Linked DNA regions of Homo sapiens: region 1 is linked to region 2. The links come from fine-mapping of genetic effects on gene expression. Tissue or cell type: whole blood. Region 2 holds a variant in brackets; the other region holds the start of a gene. All regions are shown on one strand. Distances are from middle to middle.

Region 1 (8,325 bases), 29 kb after region 2:
CACCTAATCAGAAAACCTCATTGTGGCAGCTGCTACCTGTCCACTGTGCCAAGTGCTGTGCAGGCTGCTCCTCAGGTCTCTTGTCTAACTCGAGGGTCCTCACCAGAACCCTAACAGGAGAGCTGGCATCATGTCCATTTTACAGATGAGGAAACTGAGGCTCAGGAGCACGTCTACATCTGCTAGGGGGCTGAGCTGGCATCCCAGCATAGCTCTCTTCTCTCCAGAGCCCAGGCTCCCTGCCCCTCGGTTGAGATGGACAAAAGTCTCCAGGAATGACTACAGGGGAGGCTGCCAAAGCATGCAAGCTTCCCCATGGAGGAAAACGCCAAAACCCTCCAACGCAGGTGTCCTGCCCCGCCCGCCAAGCCACTGTTGGGCTGCCATCCCACTGCCTCCCCCGCCCGTGGGCAGCCAAGGTGTGCGGAACTGGGAGAATTGGGTCTGCTCAAAGCTCAGCTTGTCCTGCATGAGGCTGCATGCATCAGTGTCTGCCCCTTAACAATCAAATGGGGAACACTGCTCTGCTGTTGCTGTATATCTGGGAACACAGTGATTCTGGGCCTGCAAGGCTGGAAGTCCAACCCTGGGACTGGGTGGCCACAGCATGGTGGCACCACGCCATGGGAGCCATCTGGGCGGCCAACCAGCAGCTCTTGGGAACCAGTCCTTGACTGCCTGGGTGCAGCTTCCTGAAACCGCTCCACTGGCTCGTTCAGAGCCTGCCTGCAGAGGGCCAGTGATAAATCTCCCCACTCTTTTCTCATTGGCAACGCAGACAGGTCCTGGAAATGCCCAATTTCCAGGTTAAGAATCAGACCCCAGCTCTGGCAACGAGCAGCTTGATATCTCCCAGGGCCATTCCTGAGCCTCCCGGGAAACAGGCCAGCATGCCTGAGCATCCCCCGCCTGGAGAAGGAACAAAGACCCAGGACCAGCCAGCCTGGTCCCCCTCTTCTGGGGGACCCTCCCGAGTAGAGCAAGAGGGGAACCTGAGGGTCCTGGGGGCTGCCCCTTCAGAGTCACCCAGGAAGCTCTCCTGGAAGACCACAGTCTGTACACATGCATGCAGGGACACACACCCACACAGGGACAGGCCCTTTGCCTTGGGGTCTTCAGTGTCAAAGTGCTCATGAGCCCTGGGGATTAAACCGAAGACCTGCACACAGTGTGATCAAGAGATCAAACAGTGGGAAGACGCGGGAGGCTGAAGGGAGATGCTCCCTGTGAATACAGAGAAGCCCTCTTCACTCCAGCCCACCTGCAACTGCCCTCAGGCCTTGGGTCAGAATCCTGGCCCTGCCACTGACCAGCTTGGTCACTCTGTGCAATCTAATTCACCTCTGTTGCCTCAGTGACTTTATCTGTCAAGTGAGCTCTTAACAGTCTTGACCCCAAAAGGAGATGATGCAAATTACTTAGCCAAGGACCTCCCCAAAACCTGCTGGCTCTTATTAGCTGTTATCTTAAACCTGTGGGGTCCAGTTCTGGGCTTGCTTCCTCCAGGTAGCTCTCCCCAGCGTCCTGTGGCCCAAAGCACTTTTGCCTTCCTCTGAGCCATAAGCTTCCCTACTGCTCACCTGACCTCAGGGCTTCTGGGCTGCCTGGGCTTCCTCTGACTCCTGGTGGCTCCTGCACACAGTAGGTGCCACAGAGAACACAGCCCATGCTTAAATCCTGGCTGCGGCCCTTGCTGGCTGCACGGGTGTTTAGGTCAGAGACTTCCCTTCTCTGACCCCCTAGCTTCCTAGAAGGTGGTGTTGGCACCTACTCTGTAGGGTTGGTCTAAGGCAGATGAAGTGAGGGGGTGGCCCACAACCTGCACTTTTTGTCTGGCCAAAGCAACAGCCTGTCCAGAGATGGGGGCACGGACCAGGTCACCTCCAGAAAGCAAGAACTGTGCAGGCCAAGCTGGGTCATTGGTGGCTTGGCTTAGAATCGGGAAGATAAGCGGAAGCCCAGATGTGAGGAGATCTGGCAGCCCAGAGGGAAGCACCGGGTGGAAGCTAGGTAGGGAAACAGGGATGCGGGGGAAGGCAGAAACTGTCTGGTGGTTTCCAGAGAGGACAGGGACCAAGTGCGCAGCGTCAGCTCTGGCAGGCCACATAGACACCAGGAAACCAGCCCCAGGACGGGGGGTGTTGGCAGGAGGGACAGGGACTTCCCCGCCCCCTCCCTTGGGCCCTTGGTAAATGGTCATTGTGTTCAGTTTCCGGCAGTGGCCTCCTCTCCTGCCAGGATCCTGGTTTTCCTGACCCAGCCAGAAGCTTCCCCTTTGATTTCTAAATAGCAGTCGAGGTCTGGATCTCAGTGCTGAGGCTGGGCAAGGAGCGCCAGGGCCAGAGAGAGGGAAGACAAGACCCCCAGGCAGGGGTGGGGCTCAGCTCTGCCTCTCCCTCAGTTCCTCAGGGACGGAGAGAGGGAACCTGCACGGCCACTGTGAGCGCTCCGCCGGACCCTCCCAGCACACAAAGCCCGAGCTGCTGCCAGAGGTAATGAAAGCCAGATGAGCGCTGGGCTGGTGTCAGCCTCCCACCCCCACCCTCCCAGGGGTCCCTCTCCAGCCGCCAATGAGGACCAGAGCCCTGGATAGATGAGGGTTGAGGGAACACGTCTGGTCCGGCCATCTGCCAAGCTCAGGAGGAAAGGGTCTCTCAGGCGTGTGGTGTTCCCCCACCAAGAGCTCTGCCCAACACTGGGCGGAGAAACAAGTCGCATCCAGGCCCTGTCTAGGTACCGGGACACCAAGAGGCACGAGACTCAGGCTAACAATCGCCAGCAATCACAACGCGCCACAGTCTAAAGCCATGAAGCGACTGGAGACGCAGCAAGGCAACACGATGCCGCACGGGGACTCAGGAGGTTCACTGTGAAGGCTGCAGCCCAGCCAAAGCTCTGATGGGCCCTGAGCCCCCGATCCAGGAATGGCCTCTGTGCAGGCCCTGTGCCCAGGCAGAGCAGGGCGAGGGGGGCATCTCTGGATTCCACTCCCTCTGCTGTGTAGTCAGCAGCAGTCAGGTGGGAGGCAGATGGCACCACCCAGAGACCCAGGGCACACGAGAAACAAGCCCCCGCCCTCACCTAGTCACCCTCCCCTCCATCCATCACAGGTACACCACTCCCTTCTCTGAATCCTACCCAGTCCTTACCGATTCAGGGTGTTGGCACTCTTTCCAGTTAAGCAGAAACAAGTCTTGCCCGCCCTGGGCCTGGGCCACCCTCCTCCCCTCACCACCAGGACATCTGGTCCCACGTGTTGGAGGCCTGCTGCTCCACCCCATCCCCCGACCCCCCCCCCACCCCGCTCTGAGCAGCCCCGATGTCCCTGGTCACCAGATCCACATCTGCCCCAAGTAGGGTCTGTCTGGAAGGCCCCTATGGTCTCATCACCTCTGAGGATTCTAGGATTTGGCCTTCCCGACCACTTGTTCCACACCTGCATCGTAAAGGCTAACGACGCGCTGCGGGCCCTGGGTGGGAACTGAGTGAAATAAGGCACAGGCCACCGATGTAAACAGGGACAGTGCCGCAGAAAAAGGTCCACCTGGGCTGCAGCGGCCTTGGTGACAGCAGGCCCTGGAACGGTATTGAGGGGCGCAAAACCCCAGCCGTGGTCCCTACTGTTGGACGGGGCGCGGCGGCAGCCCCCACTGCCCACCCTGCTGGCTGATTTCTGCAGAAGGCCCCGACCCCCACCTATGGAGGAGAGAGGAGGGAGGCGGCCCGCTGGGATCGCCCGGCCCCGTCCGGGGCTCGCCCCGACCTGCCCAGCTCTGCCGCGGGTGGGGAGGCTCCGACGCACCCCCCGCCCGACCGCCCCAGCTCACCCACCTCCGGGCGCGGCAGGTCGGGGTCTAGCTGCGTGAAGCTGTGCAGCACCACCGGGCAGCTGTCGGGGACGCCCACCTCCAGGCGCACGGCGTCCCACACGCTGCGGCTCCGCCGGGAGCCCGGAAACAGCGGCTCGGCGCCGCCAGCAGGCCCGGCCGCCTCGGCCCACATGCGCTGCACCATGGAAGGCTCGCAGCGCGGGCGCGGGGCCGGCCCGGCGCGCGGCGGGGGCGGCGGCGCGGCCCGCGCGGCTGGGCTTTGCCACCGCTGTGAGCCCGCGGCCCGGCCCTGCTGATGTCAGGCTGGGGGGCGGGGCCGGAGGGGAAGAGGGTGGGGCCGGGGAGGGGCGGAACCGGAGAGTCCGAGGGACGCGTGCGTGCGCGCGCCCGCGGCCCCGCCCTCGCCGAGGTCAGACCCGGGGCGGGACCGGGAGCCTGGAGGGGCGGGGTCTGAACAAAGAGGGCGGGGCCGGGGAGGTCGAGGGGTGCGCGTTGGCTGGGTCTCCCGGAGGACCGGCTGTCACGTGTGTCGTGGGGCCTTGGGTACCCCGGTTAGGCACCGTTTGCGTGTCACGCTGCTGCAGTGCGTGTGTTGCGTAGGGCTGAAATGTGTACGTGCTGATCATGTGTGGGGAAGCCGCCCTGGAGTCAGCTACCCCGAATTCCAGCAAAGCCTCTCCCCAACTCTGTGGCCTTCCACAAGTTGCTTAACCCCTCTGAGCCTCACTGTTTCTTCATCTGGAAAATCTGGGTAGTGAAAATGACTTCCTCAAACAGTTGCGGGGAGGATGACATTACGTAATGGACATGAAGCACTCAGCACTGAGCACCTGCACCTGACTACAGGCTCAGGCGGAGTTTGGAGAGGCTGACCATGTGTTCAGTGACCCTGTCAGTGCAATTGGAAATCCTGAGTGTGGGGCTGTGTGTGCAGTGGGGGAAAGGGTCAGAGAGTGGGGCCCTACCTTTTTGGGGCAAAGCCCCACACTATCCCCTTACAGACACCCTCAGAGGAGGGGAAGCCAGGGAGGTGGGGGAGAGCGGAAGGCACCAAGGTTGGGGCTGAGAGGCATCTGACAAGGAGGAAGGCATCAAGAGTGACAACGCTGGGCAGAGCACATGGCTGCGTGGCCTGTCAGCTGGGGCTGCTTGTGGCTTGGACATCCCTGGTCTCAGGGTGGAAGTGGGGCTGCTGGGGCTGAAGGGGAAGCAGGGACAGGGACATCCTCAACTACTCTTTCTGGAAGCCAGTGAGGAAGGAAGACAGCCTGGGGCTTAACAGCAGGGCCAGGAGAATGGATGAATGAATGGGACCCTTCCTCATGCCTCACTCATCACTGGGCCTGCCCTGGCCTCAGCCTTCAGTCTTCATGGAGGCCAGCAATTGCTGCCAGCAGCCCTGGCCATGCCAACCTCCCCAGGTCTGGTCCGTACTATTGGGCCTCAGTTTCTCCATCTGTAAACTGAGAGGGCGGGACCAGACAGCACATTCCACGAGCACATCTTGCCCCCTTCCCAAGTGCCAATCCTCAGACACCCACGAAACACTTCCACTGTGACTGGAGTGAGGCGGCAGTTCATCCGTTCAGAACAAGACCCCCATGTGCACACGACTAGAAGGGCCTACTTCACAAAAATTATGGTGGTAAGTTGCAGCTGGGTGGAAGCTCTACTGGTTTTCATTTTACTTCTCTGAATTTCTAATTTCTAAAATCAGTATTTTAATAATCAGCTCTATGTGATAAATGCTGTTTTTGAGACAGTCTCACTGTCACCCAGGCTGGAGTGCAGTGGTGTGATCTCGGCTCACTAAGGCCTCCGCCTCTTGGGGTCAAGTGATTTTCCTGCCTCAGCCTCTCGAGGAGCTGGGATTATAGGCACCTGCCACCATGCCCAGCTAGTTCTGTATTTTTCGTAGAGACAGGGTTTCACCATGTTGGCCAGGCTGATCTTGAACTCCTGACCTCAAGTGAACCGCTCGCCTCGGCCTCCCAAAGAGCTGGGATTACAGGCAGGAGCACTACGCCCAGCCTGTTTTTGTTTTTTTTTTAAGAAGCAAGATGGGTAGATTTGATTTGGGATGGAGATCCCTAGAGGCTGTTTAGGAAGCCTCCAAGCCGTTTGGCCAGGGAGGGTAATGTGGGTGAGGCGTATTTCGAGGCAGGAGGTCCCCACAGGGCCACAAAGAGGTGACCGAGACACTGCCCTCGGCCCTAAGCTCCTCCTCCCATCCCTTTCTTCTGGGGCCAAGCTCCCAATGCCTCCGGAAACTGAAAGTCCAGAAGCTGCCTGCCACTGACTTTATCTCCTCTGCTCTCTTTATCTCCTTCGCTGAGTGATGGGCCTGGGAACAAGCGCCCACCCGTTTTATAGCCCAGAAGGACAAGTGACTCATGAGGACATAGAGGAATCACCACTATTCTGGCCTTGAAGGTCCTGGGTGCTGGGGCGAGGGGTGGCCCCAAGGAGGCTGGAGTGGTGAAGAGTAAAGAATTCATCACACTAAACCCCCCAACGCGGCTGGCCTGGCTCCCTCCCATCTGACTATATCATCTACAGGAGCCAGGGCGGGGGAGGGCGTTACTTAGCCAGTCCCTCTGGCCGGTGTCTGTTTTTACAAAGTTCCTCTTCCTGCCTTGTTCCCCTACCTTTGGGACTCACCTCCCAACTTCTGGGAAGCCTGATCACTGCTCTGGCTGTACATGAGACACACACACACAGACAGACACAAAGATACACAGAGATGCACACACAGAGACACACACATAGAGACAGAGACACAGACACACACACACACACAGAGACACAAAGATACACAGAGATGCACACACAGAGACACACACAGAGAGACAGAGACACAGACACACACACACACACACAGACACACAAAGATACACAGAGATGCACACAGAGACACACACATAGAGACAGAGACACAGACACACACACACACACAGAGACACAAAGATACACAGAGATGCACACACAGAGACACACACATAGAGACAGAGACACAGACACACACACACACACAGAGACACAAAGATACACAGAGATGCACACACAGAGACACACAGAGAGACAGAGACACAGACACACACACACACAGACACAAAGATACACAGAGATGCACACACAGACACACACATAGAGACAGAGACACAGACACACACACACAGAGACACATACATAGAGACAGAGACACAGACACACACACAGACCCACAGAGACACATAGAGACAGAGACACAGGCACACACACACACACATAGAGACAGACACAGAGACACAGACGCACAGAGACAGACACAGGCACACACATTTAGAGACGGAGACACACACACAGAGACATTGGAACAGAGACACACACGCAGAGATAGAGACACACAGACAGAGACATACCTACTCAGAGACATAGAGACAGACACAGAGGCTGGGTGTGGTGGCTCATGCCTGTAACCCAGAGCTTAGGGAGGCAGAGGCAGGATTTCTTGAGCCCAGAAATTGGAGACCAGCCTGGGCAACATAGCAAGACCCCATTCTCCACAAAAAGGGAAAAAACAAGTTTGAGATAGACACAGACACACACACACAGATATAGAGACATAGACACAGATACACACACATAGAGACAGAAACACAGATACACATGCCCCCCTAATGAAGGCACAGATAAAGTTCCCTGCACAGGATGTGTTGCCCAATGCCCTCAGATCGGGCGGGCCTGACTCTGCCTCACACTGTTAGCAACTGGGGTTGGCATTCATGGGACGCCTCCTGCATGCAAGACCCTCTCCTGAGGCCTCCTGTAAGCTGTGGGGACACCCTAACCAAGGGCAAGGCCATCCTGGGACAGCGTGTGTCACCAGTGGAGGAACGCAGCACCACTCACAGTGTTCTCCTCAAAACCCAAACCTAAATCAAGGCAGGCCTCTGCATATAACTGCCATTTGTGGGATTACAGGGGACAGAGAAACATGTTCAACACACCACAAGGGTGCAATCCACAAATCCAGGCTGTGGGAACCTCTATGGGACAAACAACCCAGTTTCTTCAACAAATACATTTCAGAGGAAAAAGAAAGGGGAAACTAGACTAAAAGAAGGGTCAGAGACGTCTAACAAATGCAATGTGTGGATTTTGGATCATGATGTCAGCAAGACAACTGTTTAAAAAAAACAACTATAAGACATGTGGATTGTCTGAACACTGCTACATATTGGATGACATTAGACATCTTTTTAGGTGTGAGAATGGTGTTGCCGTCACTAGTAGAGTTACATCTTGGGCTATCTGTGGATGGCATCACATGCCTGGGATTCATGTAAACATCTCCAGGGGCGGGCAGGGAGTGGGGCAGTGAGAGGTGAACAAGAGTGGCCCTGCACCGATGGTCGTGAAAGCTGGGGGTCTTTATGCCATTTTCTCTATTTTTGTGTCTATTTGGAATTATCCATAATAAAAGTTATAAGAAGAAAAATGGCCAGACGCAGTG
Region 2 (8,325 bases):
CCACATCCTCTGGGTGCAGGGAGTGAAGTCTGTGTTCTAACTGGGGTCTGGGGAACCCGCCTGGGAAAAGAAAGGGATTCTGCTCCTCCAGCCGGATGCAAGTGGAAGAAAGAATAACACATCACACCAGAAGGTTGGAAGCAGAGGATGGGGAGGGTGCTGGGCAGTAGGCGCTGGGTGGTGGGCCTCTGGGGGGTGCCCAATGGCTCTGGCAGAGTTGACGGGGCAGGGGCAGAGGGCAGAAGGCAGAGTCAGGAGTACTCCTGCCTCTGCTGGGTCTAAGCCCAGGCACATCACTGAGCACTTGACCAGCCTGACCTCACCATGGCCTTGTGAGGTGGGTATGGTGTACACCCTCCTTTTAGACGTTTATAGATATTTAGAGGAAAATGAGGCCCTGACAGGGCATCACGTGCCCAAGGTCACTCAGAGCAAGGATTTGAACCCAGGTCCCTGACTCCAAAGCCAGTGCTTGGAACAACGTTGGGGGTCTTCTTCCCCACTCCTCACCTACCTTCTAAACAGGCACTGTGGGGCAGGGTGGGGCTTAGATGAGAGAAAATTCTGGAATCCTGAGCAACTTTGCCTGGGGGGCTCCGCGGTGGAGGGCAGCAGCACCCAAGGACCAGCTAGCCACTCTCTCTGCCCCTCCAGCCTACAGGTGGGAGGATAAGGCTCAGGGCCGACAAGTCCTGTGGCCTCATGCAGCAGAGCTGAGCCGGGACGAACCCTGTCCCCTGGAGAAGCAGGGGACACCCTGGCTGGCTGTGACCACTTTGGCCACCCTGGGCTTCCTGGGTTGGTCAAGGGGTCTCTGGTGTAAAAAGGGGACTCCCTGTCAAAGACTGAGTGAGATGGAGCTGCCCGGCAATGTGGGCCTCTCCCAGTGACTGTCCCTGTTCTCTTGGGCAACGGAAGCCCGAGGATACAATGATGTGTCCCTTCCTTGGCCACACTGGTACCCACAGGGATTATTGTGTTTCTACCTGTGGAGTCAGCTCTCAGGCGCCTCCAGCACTGTGGGAGAAACCCCTGGGACCCCAGTGCTTCTTCCCAACCCTTGGGACTGGCACCCGTCTCTTGTTGAGAGAAAGCACAGTCATGTCTGTCATTCAGAAAATCACATCCCTGGATGGCCAAGCCACGTCAGAAGGGATGGGCTGTGGGGATCCAAGCGTGTTCTACCTCTGGGCTGCACCCGCCATCCCTCTGCTTCGGTTTGAATGCTTGTCCCCGCCAAAACTCATGCTGAAATTTAATCCCCAATGTGGCAGTATTGAGAGGTGCTGCCTTTAAGAGGTGACTGGATCATGAGGCCCTGTCCCCGTAGATGGATTCATCCATTCATGGATTCATGGGTTAGTGGGTTATCATGGGAGGGTAACTGGTGGCTTTGTAAGAGGAAGAGAGACTTGAGCTAGCATGTGAGCAGGCTCAGCATCCTCACCACGTGATGCCCAGTACCGTCTCGGGACACCAGAGTCCCCACCAGCAAGAAGGCCTTCACCTGCTGCAGCCTCTCTGAGGCAGGAGGAGAGGGAATTAGGGAAGCCAAGGGTTGGGGCATAAGCAAAGGAACAGCAGGTACAGCCCGTTCACATAAGCCAGAGAACAGCAGGTGCAGCCCGTTCTCATAAGCCAGAGAACAGCAGGTGCAGCCAGTTCTAGGCAGGATTGGGGAGCACACAGGCCACATCCTCACTGCTGTGATAACAAGTCAGGAGCTTCCACTTCAACCTCTGATTGACCCTGGGCCAATCCTCCACTTCAGCCTCTGATTGGTCCCAGGCTAATCCTTCATAGGGTGTAACCAATTGGAGGCCTCTAAAGGGCATCTGGGGTGTTCTTTATAAAAACCCTGAGAAGCATTGCAATTGGGAGGTCCTTGAGCCGTTTGCTTGGGCCCGCTCCCACCCTGTGGGTTGCACGTTCGCTTCAATCAATCTGTGCCTTTGGTAAGCTGTTTTCTTGTTGCTTTGTCTTTTTTTTTTTTTTTTTTTTTGGTGGAGTTTCACTCTCATTGCCCAGGCTAGAGTGCAATGGCACAGTCTGGGCTCACTCCAAACTCTGCCTCCTGGGTTCAAGCGATTCTCCTGCCTCTGCCTCCCAAGTAGCTGGGATTACAGGTACCGGCCACCACGCCCAGCTAATTTTTTTGTATTTTTAGTAGAGACGGGGTTTCACCATGTTGGCAAGGCTGGTCTCAGGTACCTCGGCCTCCCAAAGTGCTGGGATTACGGGCGTGAGCCACTGCGACTGGCCTGTTTTGTCTGTCATTGTTTCATTCTTTTGTTACTTTGTGAGTTTTGTTCACTTCTTTGTTCAATACACCAAGAACCTGGACAACTCAGTCAGGACCTTCCATCCTATAACACCTCAACCTCGGACTTCTCAGCCTTCATAACTGTGAGAAATTCCTTTTCTTTATAAATTACCCGGTTTTAGGTATTCTGTTATAAGCAACAGAAAATCTACTTTAAAAGCCTCCATGGCACAGGTGAGCCCTGCAGTGTGTCTGGGTGATGCCTGCAGCTGTCGAGAGGGAGGAGACAGCTCAGAGTCACCTGCAATCTGGCTCTTGCCATTACAGACTCCAGATGATGAAGTTGAAAATACTGACAGGCTGGAGGCCATCTGGGGTCCTGCTGGCTCCCAGTTCCAGGAAGCCTGGAAGAGCACTGGGGTGAGCTCGGGCCAGCGCATGTTTACTGTCACAGGGGACATGTTTCAGCACTTTCATTGTAAGGCTGTGGCCTTCTGTGCTTGTGGATCCTCAGTCTCAGTGGCCTTCCTCTTCCCCCCACCCCAACTCCTGTGTTGCGTGTTTAACACACCTACGCCCAACCGGGACATAACTAAATCCTAGACTGTGGACAAAGAATACAGTCACCTCAGGGGGCTGCGAGCTCTAAAGGCTCAGGGCCCAGCTACCCCTTTAGGATGGGTCAGTAACAACACGACTGACTCTGTAAATTGGTGATCACCTGAGACTGGACCTCAGCACCACACGGACCTGTGCTTCACCTTGGCCATCGGGGGAGAGTATGGAGGTCTTTTGCTGGCAGGAATCAGCACCCTTATCCTGGCAATCAGCACTCACTGGCCATTCATGAGGCTCCAGCAGGACGAGTGGCCACAGTGTGCAGGGCACAGGGGATGGGGCTTTCCAAGGTGTTTCTGGATGACATCAATCACACAAGGAGTTGTAGGAATGCTGGCATCCTGGTTCACGGGTAGACGCCAGAGGATGCCAAGGGTGCTGGGTAGAAAGCAGAGGATGCCAAGGGTGCTGGGTGGTGGGCCCCTTGGGGGTGCCCAATGGCTCTGGCAGAGTTGTTGGGGCAGAGTCGGGACCACCCCCACCTCTTCCGGGTCCAAGCCCAGGCACTGCACTGAGCACTTGATGAGCCTGACCTCACCATGGCCTTGTGACGTGGGCACTGTGGGCAGGAATGCTTATGGAATGAGGCCCACTGTAACCCTAACACAGCATCACAAGTCTTTCCCCAGAGAGAAAACGCACAGGCAATGGAAATCTATGGTTAGGAACAAAGATTCCCGTCTAAGAAAAAGGGTGGACCACGGGCCTCTAGAAGGGACTGAGGGGGCAAAGTCCTGCCCGTGCACTGGCTAACACTCTTCCTTTAGCTTTTCCCCCCCACTTTCCATATTGTACATTTTATCTGTTTATAATTTTTCTTAGTGCTGACTAAATTCCAGAGTTAGACCTTGAAATCCACAAGTTCCTAATTGGTGGTCAACAGAAACCTCAGCAAGACAAGCAGAAAATGCTCCTCTTCCCCTAAAGCTGTAGAAAGGCAGCCACCAACCTGGGCTAGGAAATGGTCCTTACAGATACTATTTTTTTTTTAACTGTGGTAAAACCTATATAACAAAACTGATGCTAATTTAACTGTTTTTAAGAGTAGAATTGAGTGACATTAGTTCGATTCACTGTTGGGCAACCATCACCACTCTCTATTTCCATAATTTTTTCATCACCCCAAATAGAAGCTCTATATCCATTAGCTAACTCCTCATTTCCCCTCCCTCTAACCCCTGGTAGCCTCTATCCTTTCTGTCTCCATGAATTTGCCTTTTGGAGATATTTCTCATAAGTGGAATTGTAATGTTTTCAAAGTTCATCCATGTTGTAGCATGTGTGGGCATACCATACCTTTTTTTTTTTTTTTTAAGAAGCGGAGTTTCCCTCTTGTTGCCCAGGCTGGAGTGTAGTGGCACAATCCCGGCTCAATGCAACCTCTGCCTCCCGGGTTTAAGCAATACTCCTGCCTCGGCCTCCCAAGTAGCTGGGATTACAGGTGCTCATCACCATACCCGGCTAATTTTGTATTTTTAGTAGAGATGGGGTTTTACCATGTTGGTCAGACTGGTCTTGAACTTCTGACCTCAAGTGATCCACCCACCTTGGCCTCCCAAAGTGCTGGGATTACAGGCATGAGCCATTGCACCTGGCCTTTTTATGACTGAATAATATTCCACTGTATGTTGCTGGCATGCAATGGTGCATTCTCTTATAAAGCATTATCTTCTCATCCTTTTTATTTGTGTAAAGTTGGTAGGAATGTTCCCACTTTCATTCCAAATTTTAGTAATTTGAGTCTTGTCTCTTCTTTGTTCATCTAAAGTATTGTCAATTTTGTTCTTTAGAAATAACCAGTTTTTGGTTTTGCTGATTTTCTCTATTTTTCTATTCTCTATTTTGTTTATCTCTGCTGTAATCTTTATTATTTCCTTCATTCTGCTAGCTTTGGGTTTAGTTCGCTCTTTTTCTAATTCCTAAATGTGTGCGGATAAATTATTGATTTGAGATCTTTCTGCTTTTTTAATGTAGTCGTTTACAGCTATAAATTTCCCCCAAGCACTGCTTTC[A/G]ATTTCACCGCATGCTGTAAGTTTTGGTATGTTGTGTTTTTGTTTTGTCTCAAGGTGTCTTCTAATTTCCCTTGTGACTTCCTTTTAGACCCATTGGTTGTTTAAGAGTGTGTTAAGCCTGGGCGCGGTGGCTCACGCCTGTAATCCCAGCACTTTGGGAGGCTGAGGCAGGTGGATCATGAGGTCAGGAGTTCAAGACCAGGCTGGCCAACATGGTGAAACCCCATCTCTATTAAAAAATATATAAAAATTAACCAGCTGTGGTGGTGCACACCTGTAATCCTAGCTACTCAGGAGGCTGAGACAGGAGAATTGCTTGAACCTTGGAGGTGGAGGTTGCAGTGAGCTGAGATCGTGCCACGGCACCCCAGCCTGGGCGATGGAGCAAGACTCCGTCTGGAGTCGGGGAGGGGAAGAGTGTTAAGATCCTTTTGTAGTTGATGAACAATGATGATTGGGTGTTCATGCACATGCGTGAGATGTGTCACCCTCAAACCCTTACGTCGGCACGTTACCCATCTGACGTGAAAAAGAAGAGAGTGCGTTAACTTCCACATATTCATGAGTGTTCCAGTTTTTCTTCTGCTATGGATTTATAATTTTATCCTATTGTAATTGGAATGATACTTTGTATAATTTCGTTTTAAAAATTTATTGCTGGGTGCAGTGGCTCATGCCTGTAATCCCAGCACTTTGGGAAGCCGAGGCAGGGAGATCACCTGAGGTCAGGAGTTCAAGACCAACCTGCTTAACATGGTAAAACTCCATCTCTACTAAAAATACAAAAATTAGCCGGGTGTGGTGGCGGGTGCTGTAATCCCACCTACTCGGGAGGCTGAGGCAGGAGAAGCACTTGAACCTGGGAGGTGGAAGTTGCAGTGAGCCAAGACTGCACCATTGCACTCCAGCCTGGGCAACAAGAGCAAAACTCCGTCTTAAAAAAAAAAATTAAGACTTACTTTATGGCCTAACATATGGTCTATCCTGGAAAATGTTCCATGTACACTTGACAATAATGTGTAGTCTGTTGTTGCTGGTTTGTGTGTTGTGTATATGTCTGCTCAGTCTAATTGGTTTATAGAGTTGCTCAAATCCTCTTTCCTTATAGATCTTCTGTTTGGTTGTTCTTATCCATTATTGGAAATGAGGTATTGAAATCTCCAATTGTGTATTTCTCATTTAATTATATCAATTTTTGCTTCATACATTTTGGGTGTTTTAAGTGTGTGTATGGATACAATTGTTGTATCTTGAGAAGTTGCAGCTTTTGTCAGTGTATACTGACCTTGTCTTGTTACGGTTTTGACTTAAAATCTATTTTGTCTGATAATACTATAGCCATTGTTAAAATATACTATTTTCATGGAATAACTTTTTCCAACATTTTACTTTCAACTTTTTTGTATCTTTGTATTCAAAATTTGTCTCAGCCGGGTGCAGTAGCTCACGCCTGTAATCCTAGCACTTTGGGAGGCCAAAGTGGGTGGGTCACTTGAGGTCAGGAGTTCAAAACCAGCCTGGCCAATATGGTAAAACCCTGTCTCTACCAAAAACACACAAAAAAATTAGCCAGGTGTGGTGGTAGACACCTGTAATCCCAGCTACTCAGGAGGCTGAGGCAGGACAATTGCTTGAACCTGGGAGGTGGAGTTTGCAGTGAGCTGAGATTGCATCACTGCACTCCAGCCTAAGCGACAGAGTGAGATTCCACCTCAAAATAAAATAAAATTTGTCTCTACAGGCTGGGCATAGTGGCTCACACCTGTAATCCTAGCACTTTGGGAGGCCAAGGCGGACAGGTCACCTGAGGTCAGGAGTTTGAGACCAGCCTGGCCAACGTGGCAAAACCCTGTCTCTACTAAAAATACAAAATTAGCTGGGTGTGATAGTGGGTGCCTATAATCCCAGCTACTTGGGAGACTTGCCCAGGGGTCAAGTGGCAGTGAGCCAAGATCGTGCCACTTCACTCCAGCGTGGGTGAAGAGTGAAACACCATCTCAAAAAAAAAAAAGTCTATACAGCATATAGATAGACAAAGTTCTAAAAAAATCCATTCTGCCCATCTTTTTTTTTTTTTTTTTTTTTTTTTTTTTCCTGAGACAGGGTCTTGCTCTTGCTCTGTTGTCCAGGCTGGAGTGCATTGGCAGGATCACAGCTCACTACAGCCTTGACCTCCCGGGCTTAAGCGATCTTCCCACATCAGCCTCTTGAGAGCTGGGACCACAGATGCACATCACCATGCCTGGCTAATTTTAAAATTTTTCTGTAGAGATAGAATCTCACCGTGTTGCCCATGCTGGTCTCAAACTCCGGGGCTCAAGCCATCTCCAACCTCAGCCTCCCAAAGTGCTGGGATTACAGGTGTAAGCCACTGCATCTGGCCCAATCTCTGCTTTTTAATTGGAGAACTTAACCCATTTGTATTTATAGTAATTAATGAGAAAACCTTTACTTCTGCCATTTAGCTGTTTGTTTTCTGTATGTCTTATGATTTTCATTCCTCAATTCCTCCACTACTGCTTTTTACGGATTTACTTTTGTACAATTTTGATCCTTTCTTTGCTTTCCTATATACTTTTTAGTTATTTTCTTACTGGTTACTTTTGGTATTACAAGTAACATCTTAAACATATAACAATCTAGTTTCAATAATACCAATTGAATTTAAGTAGTATACACTGCTATTACACATCTTCCCTCTGTCAGTCACAGATTATATCTTTATACATTGTTTCCATTAATGTGGATTTATAGCTTTATGAATTTTACCTTTAAATCATAAGAAAAAAGGATGAGTTACACAAATCCAAAGTGAAATAACACTGGCTTTGCTAACTACCTGTTAGTTATCTCTACCAGTGTTCTTTAGTTTTTCATATGGCTTCAAGTTACTGTCTAGTGTTTATTTTAGCTGGAAGGACTCCCTTTACCATTTATTGTAGGGCAGGTCTACTAATAAAACTCCCTTAACTTTTATCTGAGAATGTCTTAATTTCTCCTTCATCCTTAAAGGATGTTTTGCTTCTTCTTTCAGCACTTTATTTTGAGAATATTTTTTGAGACGGAGTCTTGCTCTGTCGCTCAGGCTGGAGGGCAGTGGTGCGATCTTGGCTCACTGCAACCTCCGTCTCCCGGGTTCAAGCGATTCTCCTGGCTCAGCCTCCAAATAGTTGGGACTATAGGTATGTGCCACCATGCCTGGCTAATTTTTGTATTTTTAGTAGAGACAAGGTTTCACCATGTTGGCCAGTTTGGTCTCGAACTCCTGACTTCAGATGATCTGTCCACCACGGCCTCCCAAAGTGCTGGGATTACAGGTGTGAGCCACCATGCTCAGCCTTCTTTCAGCACTTTAAATATGTCATCCTATTACCTTCTAGACTCCATGGTTTCTGATGAGAAATCAGCTGTTAATCCTGAGGATCTCTTGTA

Evidence for each region. PIP is the estimated chance that this variant, and not a neighbour inherited with it, causes the effect.
Region 1: RALGDS starts here. The variant in region 2 is fine-mapped to the expression of RALGDS in whole blood (INTERVAL, PIP 0.93).

What each region holds. Positions count from the first base shown.
Region 1 is chr9:133,117,141-133,125,465 of GRCh38, forward strand. RALGDS (ral guanine nucleotide dissociation stimulator) reads right to left here and starts at 4,100. Exons shown (of 18, transcript NM_006266.4): 1 at 3,832-4,100. The coding sequence starts at 4,014. RefSeq lists an enhancer at 3,004-3,700 and a silencer at 3,680-4,389.
Region 2 is chr9:133,087,734-133,096,058 of GRCh38, forward strand. LOC124902343 (small nucleolar RNA U13) reads left to right here and starts at 5,319; the gene lies at 5,319-5,418. RefSeq lists an enhancer at 2,755-3,256. The variant A/G (reference allele first, on the strand shown) is at 4,894.